2 separate regions of the Homo sapiens genome follow, and region 2 is linked to region 1. Evidence: fine-mapped expression QTL. Tissue or cell type: whole blood. Region 1 holds a variant in brackets; the other region holds the start of a gene. All regions are shown on one strand. Distances are between the middles of the regions.

What was found.
Region 2: FOXRED2 starts here. The variant in region 1 is fine-mapped to the expression of FOXRED2 in whole blood (INTERVAL, PIP above 0.99). The same link has a PIP of 0.9 or more in skeletal muscle.

Annotation. Positions count from the first base shown.
Region 1 is chr22:36,483,325-36,487,704 of GRCh38, reverse strand. It overlaps FOXRED2 (FAD dependent oxidoreductase domain containing 2), which reads left to right. Exons shown (of 9, transcript NM_001102371.2): 9 at 1-515. Among named protein-coding and RNA genes, the nearest start is that of TXN2, 3.9 kb to the right of the region's middle. The variant AT/T (reference allele first, on the strand shown) is at 1,759.
Region 2 is chr22:36,505,089-36,509,468 of GRCh38, reverse strand. It overlaps FOXRED2 (FAD dependent oxidoreductase domain containing 2), which reads left to right and starts at 2,429. Exons shown (of 9, transcript NM_001102371.2): 1 at 2,429-2,460; 2 at 3,046-3,573. The coding sequence starts at 3,047. RefSeq lists a silencer at 2,183-2,682.

The DNA.
Region 1 (4,380 bases):
GAATTGTTTACCCCATGATAATGTAGGATATCATAAATTCTTCTTCAAAGGTTTTAGCCTGTAATTTGTTAAGTACATTGAGTTCTGAGATCCTCTCCAAAGAACCAATGTATCAGTATGTTCAGCTCACCTGTTCTTTGTTCTTCATTTTAACTTTTAATTTCCTCATTCTTTATGTCTCCTTGCCCCTAGTTTCAGTAAACAATCCCCTCCTAGCCTCTGTCACCTGCTCTGACCTGAGTCACCTTTAGTCACCTGGTCCGTAACCATCTTTCCTGTCTAAACTTCTCACCCCACCACTCTGGCTTATACCCCTGCTCTCTTTAAAATAGCCAGTCAGAATTAGCTTAGATTGTGCGGTCCAACCCTAGCCCATAGGGGAACAACACAGCAGTAGGGGGTACCTGCATCAGGGATAAGAACCCATTCCCCTCCCTTGTTCCGGTGTGCTCTCGCCATTGCACCATCCATGAGACGCACTCTTGTATAGAAGTAAAATTGCCTTGCTGAGAAAATGTATGTTTGAGTGCTATTTCTTTTGTGGCACTGAAAATTTATTTCTAACAAATTTGGGGTCTCATTTGGGATTCCCATCCTCCTCTGAGGAGGGTCTAGACCTCTCCCATGAGGAGGCACGTCCCACTGCCTTGTTGCGGTGGCCACAGGGGTAAGGAATCGAGACCAACCAGTGTGACGAATAAACCTATACTCTCAGCAAGGCAGAAAGAAACGGGCTGGCGACCTGGGGGAAAGGATCCTCATGTACCACAGCGACCAAGTAAGTGTGCAGAGACCAAGCTAAGAAACATCGCAGGGGTGACAAAGTATTTCCTTGGTGGTCAGGATATTCTGGGGGTTGAAAGTGTGCATGAATGCAAGGAGCCTCCAGCAGGTGGGGCTAAAGGATAGGCGAGACATCTCCAACAGGGGAGATTGAGCTTAACCAGGACCCAAGATGGGAAATGCCCCAAGTAAGGTAAGAGATAAAAAGGAGAAAGCTAGCAACAGTAATATTCCCCCAGGCCTAATGTTAAAATGTTAGAAGGATAATGAAAGGACCAAAAACAAAAGCAGCTGCTGTCCCAGACCCTTCTCCTATCTCTGATGTCCCCTTTCTTACAACCCTGCCTCTTGAGAATCGTCCCAAGAGCCCACTCACTACCGACCTAAGTACCTTTCCCTTAAAGGACTTCAACGTGAGATAGAGCAATGTAAAAAAGATATTCAGAATTTCCCTTTCCCCTCTTCTCGGGGGAAGAAAGAGACATGATCCATAGAGCTGCTATGGGAGCCTAGGAACACGAACACCCTCCTGGCCAAAACGTTCCTACAGCAGATCAAAAAACTCCCACCCAAGACCCCCAGTGGGACAATAACAACGCAGCCCACCGAGAAAATATGCAGGACCTTAAGGAATTGATAATAAAGGGGATTAAAGCATCAGTACCCCGAGGCTGGGCGCAGTGGCTCACGCCTGTAATCCCAGCACTTTGGGAGGCCGAGGCAGGCAGATCACAAGGTCAGGAGATCGAGACCATCCTGGCCAACACAGTGAAACCCCGTCTCTACTAAAAAATACAAAAAAATTAGCTGGGCATAGTGGCAGGCGCCTTTAGTCCCAGCTACTCAGGAGGCTGAGGCAGGAGAATGGCGTGAACCCAGAAGGCGGAGCTTGCAGTGAGCCGAGATCACGCCACTGCACTCCAGCACTCTAGCCTGAGCAACAGAGCAAGGCTCCATCTCAAAAAAAAAAAAAAA[AT/T]TGGTACCCCGAACTCAGTATCTTACCCGAATATTTGATATACAGCAAGGGAAAGATGAAGGGCCTATAGAATTTTTAGATAGATTAAAGGAACAAATGAGAAAATACACTGGTCTAGGTCTCAAGGATCCTCTTGGGCAGGGAATGTTAAAACTTCATTTTGTCACTAACAGTTGGCCAGATATTAACAAGAAATTACAAAAGATAGAGAACTGGAAAGATAAACCTATAGAAGAGCTTCTAAGAGAAGCCCAAAAGGTATATATAAGAAAAGATGATGAAAAACAAAAGCAGAAGGCAAAAATTCTGCTGTCTACCATACAACAAAGTACCCAGGGGGCCAGAACCTATAAAGAACCTAGACTGAGGGCTGGGCGCGGCGGCTCACGCCTGTAATCCCAGCACTTTGGGAGGCCAAGGCGAGCGGATCACGAGGTCAGGAGACCAAGACCATCCTGGCTAACACGGTGAAACCCCGTCTCTACTAAAAAAAAGCAGCCGGGCATGGTGGTGGGCGCCTGTAGTCCCAGCTACTCGGGAGGCTGAGGCAGGAGAATGGCGTGAACCCAGGAGGCGGAGGTTGCAGTGAGCCAAGATCGCGCCACTACACTCCAGCCTGGGCGACAGAGCGAGACTCCGTCTCAAAAAAAAAAAAAAAAAAAAAAAAAGAACCTAGACCCCCACTCTCCAGGCAATATATAGAGTATGAAAGAGTAAAGCCAGGAGACTCAAAAGTAAAGAAAAAAAAAACTTAGAGGAGAGAGAAAGACTGACAGAACAGACAGAGTCAAAGAGAGAGAGACAGGCAAAAAGGGAAAGAGAGAGGCAGAGAGAAAGGCAAAGGGAGAGAGTCAAAGAGGAAGAGAGAGGCAGAGAGAGAGGCAAAGAGAAAGAGTGAGAGAGAAAAAGAGGCAGAGAGGGAGAGGCAAAGGGAGAGAAAGAGGACAAAATAAATGTTTCAGATTAAAAATAGGTCACTTCAAAAGAAAATGTCCCAAATGGGAAAAAGAACAAAAGTCATATATAAAAGCAAATCAGCTAATATTAAATTTCTGTTTATTCCAGAGGCAGGAACAAACCTATTAGAGAGATTTAATGCTAAAATTTGGCTTAGGCCTCTATATTAATCAGGGAAGATTCCTCCCCTCCCTAAACTTGCTCCCCACCACAGACAAAGAACTCATTCATCCCAAGGTATGGTCAAAAGACGAGAATCGAGGAAAGTTACAGATTACTCAGTTTCATGTTAAATTACAAACCCCTGGGGAAGTAGTAAAGAGAAAGCAATGTATCCTATTCCTTTCAAAGCCGAGGTAAATTTAAAACCTATAATTGATAATTGAAGGTCTTCTCCGTGATGGATTTCTTAAACCCTGTATGTCTCCCTATAACATTCCAATACTGCCTGTAAAGACGCCAGACAGGTCATACCGGTTAGTGCAAGACCTTAGAGCTATTTTTTTTTTTTTTTTTTTTGAGACAGAGTCTTGCTCTTTCGCCCAGGCCAGAGTGCAGTGGCACTATCTCGGCTCACTGCAAGCTCCGCCTCCCGGGTTCACGCCATTCTCCTGCCCAGCCTCCCGAGTAGCTGGGGCTACAGGCGTGTACCACCACGCTTGGCTAATTTTTGTATTTTTAGTAGAGATGGGGTTTCACCATGTTGGCCAGGCTGGTCTCGAACTCCTGACCTCAAGTGAACTGCCCGCCTTGGCCTCCCAAAGTGCTGGGATTACAGGTGTGAGCCACCACGCCTGGCACCATGTTTGTTTTTTTAAAAAGCAGATCACCACCCACTAAATTAATTTTGCAAACCCACTGACGTCCATATCCTGCAGTTTGAAAAACACTGCAATAAATATTGGTAGGAGGTAGAAGTTTTACCCTTAGCCCAGGCTGCCAGTCCTGGCTTCCTTCCCTTTGCCTCTCAGCTGTGCCCTGAGCCTGCTTGTGACTAAGCCAGACCCAGGCCAGCTCAGCTCTAGCTGGACAGAGGAGCCACCATGTAGCTGAGAGCCCTTTTGTAGCGCGCCGAGAGCTCAGCCTTCTCTGTGTCTCTCAGGCTTTCCCTGCAGGAGTCATCAGGCAGCAATGATGTGGATTCTGTCTCTACTGCAACCCTCAGCCCAGCTATGAGAAAGGCATTCTTCCCATTGCTCAGATGAGAAGCCTGAGGCCGATCAGGGTGAAGTGACTATGGCATAAGGACAAACAGGACTGGTCCGCCTGTGAAATTCAGAATGTGAATTAGGCAGGAAAATTGGCTCTCTAGAAAATACTGTGGAAGTGCTGAATAGGATTGATAGGTGGCTGTGGAAAAGAAAGTGCTAGAGACACAGAAAACCGATACAAAAATGGGCAGGGCGGCCAGGCGCGGTGGCTCACGCCTGTTATCCCAGCACTTTGGGAAGCCGAGGCGAGCGATAACTTAAGGTCAGGAGTTCGAGACCAGCCTGGCCAACATGGTGAAATATAAAATTTCTGTACCAAAAATATAAAAAATTAGCCAGGTGTGGTGGTGCTCGCCTGTAATCCCAAGTACTTGGGGGGCTGAGGCAGGAGAATCCCTTGAACCCTGGAGGTGGAGGTTGCGGTGAGCCAAGATCATGCCACTGCACTCCAGC
Region 2 (4,380 bases), 22 kb before region 1:
GGAGGCGGAGGTTGCAGTGAACTGAGATCACACCACTGCACTCCAATTTGGATTACAGAGACTCTCAAAAAAAGCTCAGCATTTCTAAAGTTACAGGTTTTTTTTTTAAAGTAGCTTGAAAAAACACAAAATTAATTTTAATGAATCGAACCTCAGCAAGCAAAAGGTTTCTTGAACTGTGTTAGAAGCAGTGGAGAGAAAAAGTGTACTTGGGGAGTTTTCAATGTGAATACAGAGTGTTAAAAAACAGATTAAAGTGGTGTGACTAGTGCCGGGGGTTTCCAGGTTGGACCAGTATTCACCAAATTGCCTCTTGCAAACCATGGCCCTGTCCAACAGGATTAACAGAAGCAAGTGGAAGTGACTCAAGCTCATTCCCTGAAAATACTTTGCATCAGTTTCCACTGCCTTTTTTTTTTTTTTTTTTTTTTTTGAGACGGAGTCTTGCTCTGTTGCCCAGGCTGGAGTGCAGTGGCGCAATCTCAGGCACTGTAAGCTCCGCCTCCTGGGTTCACGCCATTCTCCTGCCTCAGCCTCCCGAGTAGCTGTCCACTGCTTTTATCTGTCCTGCATGGGGCTACCAAGTTGACTGCTGCAGTAATCCTACATTCAGAAACTCCCAGTAGCATCCTGTTGCTTACAATCTAGGTTCAGCCTACTCGTAGGGCCCTACCATACTTGACGAATTCTGTTTAATTTCCCACTACTGTATTCACCACATAAGACCAGCAATTATTTTAGGAACTTGTTTGCCAGCACCCATTCTCATAATCTTCACAACCACTAAGAAACAGACATCCCCAAATTGCATGACTATCAAAACATCTCATATGCCCCATAAATATATACACATATGCCCCCAAAAATTTTTTTGAAAAATTGGCCAGGGGCCATGGCACACACTTGTAATCCCTAGCACTTTGGGAGGCTGAAGCAGGATCGCTTGAGCCTGGAAGGTCAGGGCTGCAGTGAGCCATGATTGTGTCACTGCACTCCAGCCTGGGTGACAGTGAGACTCTGTCTCAAAAAGAAGAAATAAGACATCCCTACTTTATTTTTGGCAAAGTATTCTGCCTGACCTCTCTGGTTGCAATGCTTATTCAACAAATGCTTAAACTTCCGTATGTCAGATACTGGACAATTTCTGCTCTGAGGGAGCTTTTCTCTGATGTTGACACAGACTGAAGAAAGTAAATGACATTCGGCCAGGCGCGGTGGCTCACGCCTGTAATCCCAGCACTTTGGGAGGCCGAGGCGGGCGGATCACGAGGTCAGGAGATCGAGACCATCCTGGCTAACACAGTGAAACCCTGTCTCTACTAAAAATACAAAAAATTAGCCGGGTGTGGTGGCGGGCACCTGTAGTCCCAGCTACTAGGGAGGCTGGGGCAGAAAAATGGCGTGAACCTGGGAGGTGGAGCTTGCAGTGAGCCGAGATCACGCCACTGCACTCCAGCCTGGGCGACAGAGTGAGACTCCATCTCAAAAAAAAAAAAAAAAGAAAAAGTAAATGACATTCTTTGGTAGGTACTTGTAGGCCTGAGAGGTCAGGAAAATTTTTCTAAGGAGTCCCCAGCTACGATTTTTAATTCAAAGAATCTCCAGCCATGCAAATCTGCAGGCTCGCAGTTCTTTCCACCTGCCCTTCCCCCAAGAACACTCAGCCCCATTTCACTGGACTTTGAAGGTTCCTACACTGACTTCGTATTTCTCCCCATGTAAATCTCATGCAGGGGCCACTTGCCACCCCTGGGAAGCCAACCTTCATCATCCAGTTCACGTTATCTTCCTCCTGCCATTTATCTTGCCTCCACTGAGTTTTAATTCCAGGCTCCACTTCCTGTGATTGTAAACATATCCCTTCATCCCTATGTCTCCATTTGACCAGTCAGCTACCAAATGTCGGAAACAATGCCTTGCCCACCTCTCCTATTTGGTGGAAGATTAGGACAGTCGTGTATGTTACTTGGTAAGCAGTACACTGAGTCACTGTAGCAAACGCTTGTTAATTGGCTTATCGGTCCTGGCTCCACCACGCTGGTTTCCAGTCCCACAAAACTGGGTAGGCCAACTAGTTTTAGCGTTTGGCTACATTCATGGAATATGAGAGCTAGGATTAGCTCCAAAAATCACGTGCTCCCCTCCCTCCGTGTAGAGAGGCACCTTTTAAAACGAAGGACCCAGTTCCCCATCCCGGATCTCCAGACCTTCCACCCTCGCGGGTGCGCGCTAGCCCCAGGCCCCTCTACCAGCCCCCGGAGCAGCGAACGCAGCACGCGCGCGCCTCTCCCGCGCTGGGCCGGAGCAGGCAGCCTGCCAGCTGGTCCCGGCGTGCCGCGCGCCGCGCACGTGACCCCGCCCCCTGCCATTGGTCCGGGCGCGAGGGGCGGAGCCGCCGCGGAGCAAGCGAGCCAAGCGCGGCCTCATTAGACCACGGGTTGCAGCCGGAGCGGCTGGGAGGTTCGCGCGTTTCTCAGGGTTCGGTCGGAGGCGGGGAGGCCGGAGCTGCGGGCGTAGGGACCTGGCGGCTCCTGAAGCGCACGCGGGCGGGCGGCAGGTGTGCGCGGCATCCCTGTCACGTGGCCGAAGAGCCTGGGGCGCGCGGACCCTGGCAGGGGGCGGGGCGCACGCAGGCCACACCCACTTCAGGCTCCCACCCGGTCGCTGGAGAGGGGCCAAGGCCTCTGGAAGGTCCAACCTGGAGGGTGGTTCAAAGGGGTGTTGGGCACCCTCAAATTAGGGGAAAATTGGGGAGTACGCTCTCCTTCCCCAGGGTGGAGGTTACTACAATCATAAGCGGGGAGCCGGTGCCCCTGAGGAAGGAGACCCTGAGGGAGATAAGATGGAGGGGCTCGGGATTCCGGGGAGCCCCAAGTCCCAGCTTGAAACGGTGGAGTCCGGGCAAATGAGCTCTGAGGACGGCTTCTGGGCCTGGCCGTGACCCAGATTGCAGTGAGAGTTCCCGCAGGCCCCGCCTCTTTCTGGGCCTCGTGTCTCCCAGCCGCCGGGCCGGGTGCGAGGCCTTACCCCTCTGATCTGCTGCAGGATGGGCCTCTCCGCTGCGGCCCCGTTGTGGGGTCCCCCGGGGCTGCTCCTGGCCATCGCCCTGCACCCAGCGCTGTCGGTGCCCCCGCGCCGGGACTACTGCGTGCTGGGCGCTGGGCCCGCGGGCCTGCAGATGGCCTACTTCCTGCAGCGCGCTGGACGCGACTACGCAGTGTTCGAGCGGGCCCCGCGGCCCGGCAGCTTCTTCACACGCTACCCGCGGCACCGCAAGCTCATCAGCATCAACAAGCGGTACACGGGCAAGGCTAACGCCGAGTTCAACCTCCGCCACGACTGGAACTCTCTGCTCAGCCACGACCCCCGGCTGCTCTTCAGACACTACTCGCGTGCCTACTTCCCCGACGCCCGCGACATGGTGCGCTACCTGGGTGACTTCGCGGACACGCTGGGGCTCCGTGTCCAGTACAACACCACCATCGCCCACGTCACTCTGGACAAGGACCGACAGGCCTGGAATGGCCACTACTTCATCCTAACTGACCAGAAGGGCCAGGTGCATCAGTGCAGGTAAGGCCGGTGCCAGAGCTCACCTGCGGAAGCTGGGACCTTCCCCACACGAACCACACACCTTGATTGGCCAGTAGGTATGGGAGGAATGGACGAAAAAGGGTATTTCGCTTTTTTTTTTTTTTAAGACGGAGTCTCACTCTGTCGCCCAGGCTGGAGTGCAATGGCACGAGGTCAGCTCACTGCAACCTCCGCCTCTCTAGTTCAAGCGATTCTCCTGCCTCAGCCTCCCCAGTAGCTGGGATTACAGGCAAGCACCACCACACCCGGCTAATTTTTTTATATTTTTGGTGGAGATGAGATTTCACGACGTTGGCCAGGCTGGTCTCGAACTCCTGACCTCAGGAGATCCACCCACCTCAGCCTCCCCAAATGCTGGGATTACAGGTATGAGCCACCGCACCCGGCCTTCAATTCTATTTTTGAAACCACTCTGTGATCAAAGCATTCTTCTGCAAGCCGGCAGGATCCAAGTCCCCAGCTGCCCTCCCCTGGATGGCGATCCTCACCAATGGAAGGAGCAGGACTTTGGAATCAAGCCTATCTGTGTTTAGACTCTGGCTCTGCTGCTTTTAGGAGCTCTCAAGCCATGGGCCTGCAGGGCCTGTGCCTCCTCACCTGTAAAGCAGGCCACATACCACCTCCAGGTTGCTTGGAGGAGTCAGAAAGATGGTGCACAGATACACTTAGTACAGGGCCTGGTACAGAATTACTGCTCAGTGGATAGATGTATCTGTCAGAGGACTCAGAAAGGGGAAAGTAGAATGTCAGGTTTCATTTCATCACCAGCAGTCATACCTGGTCTGA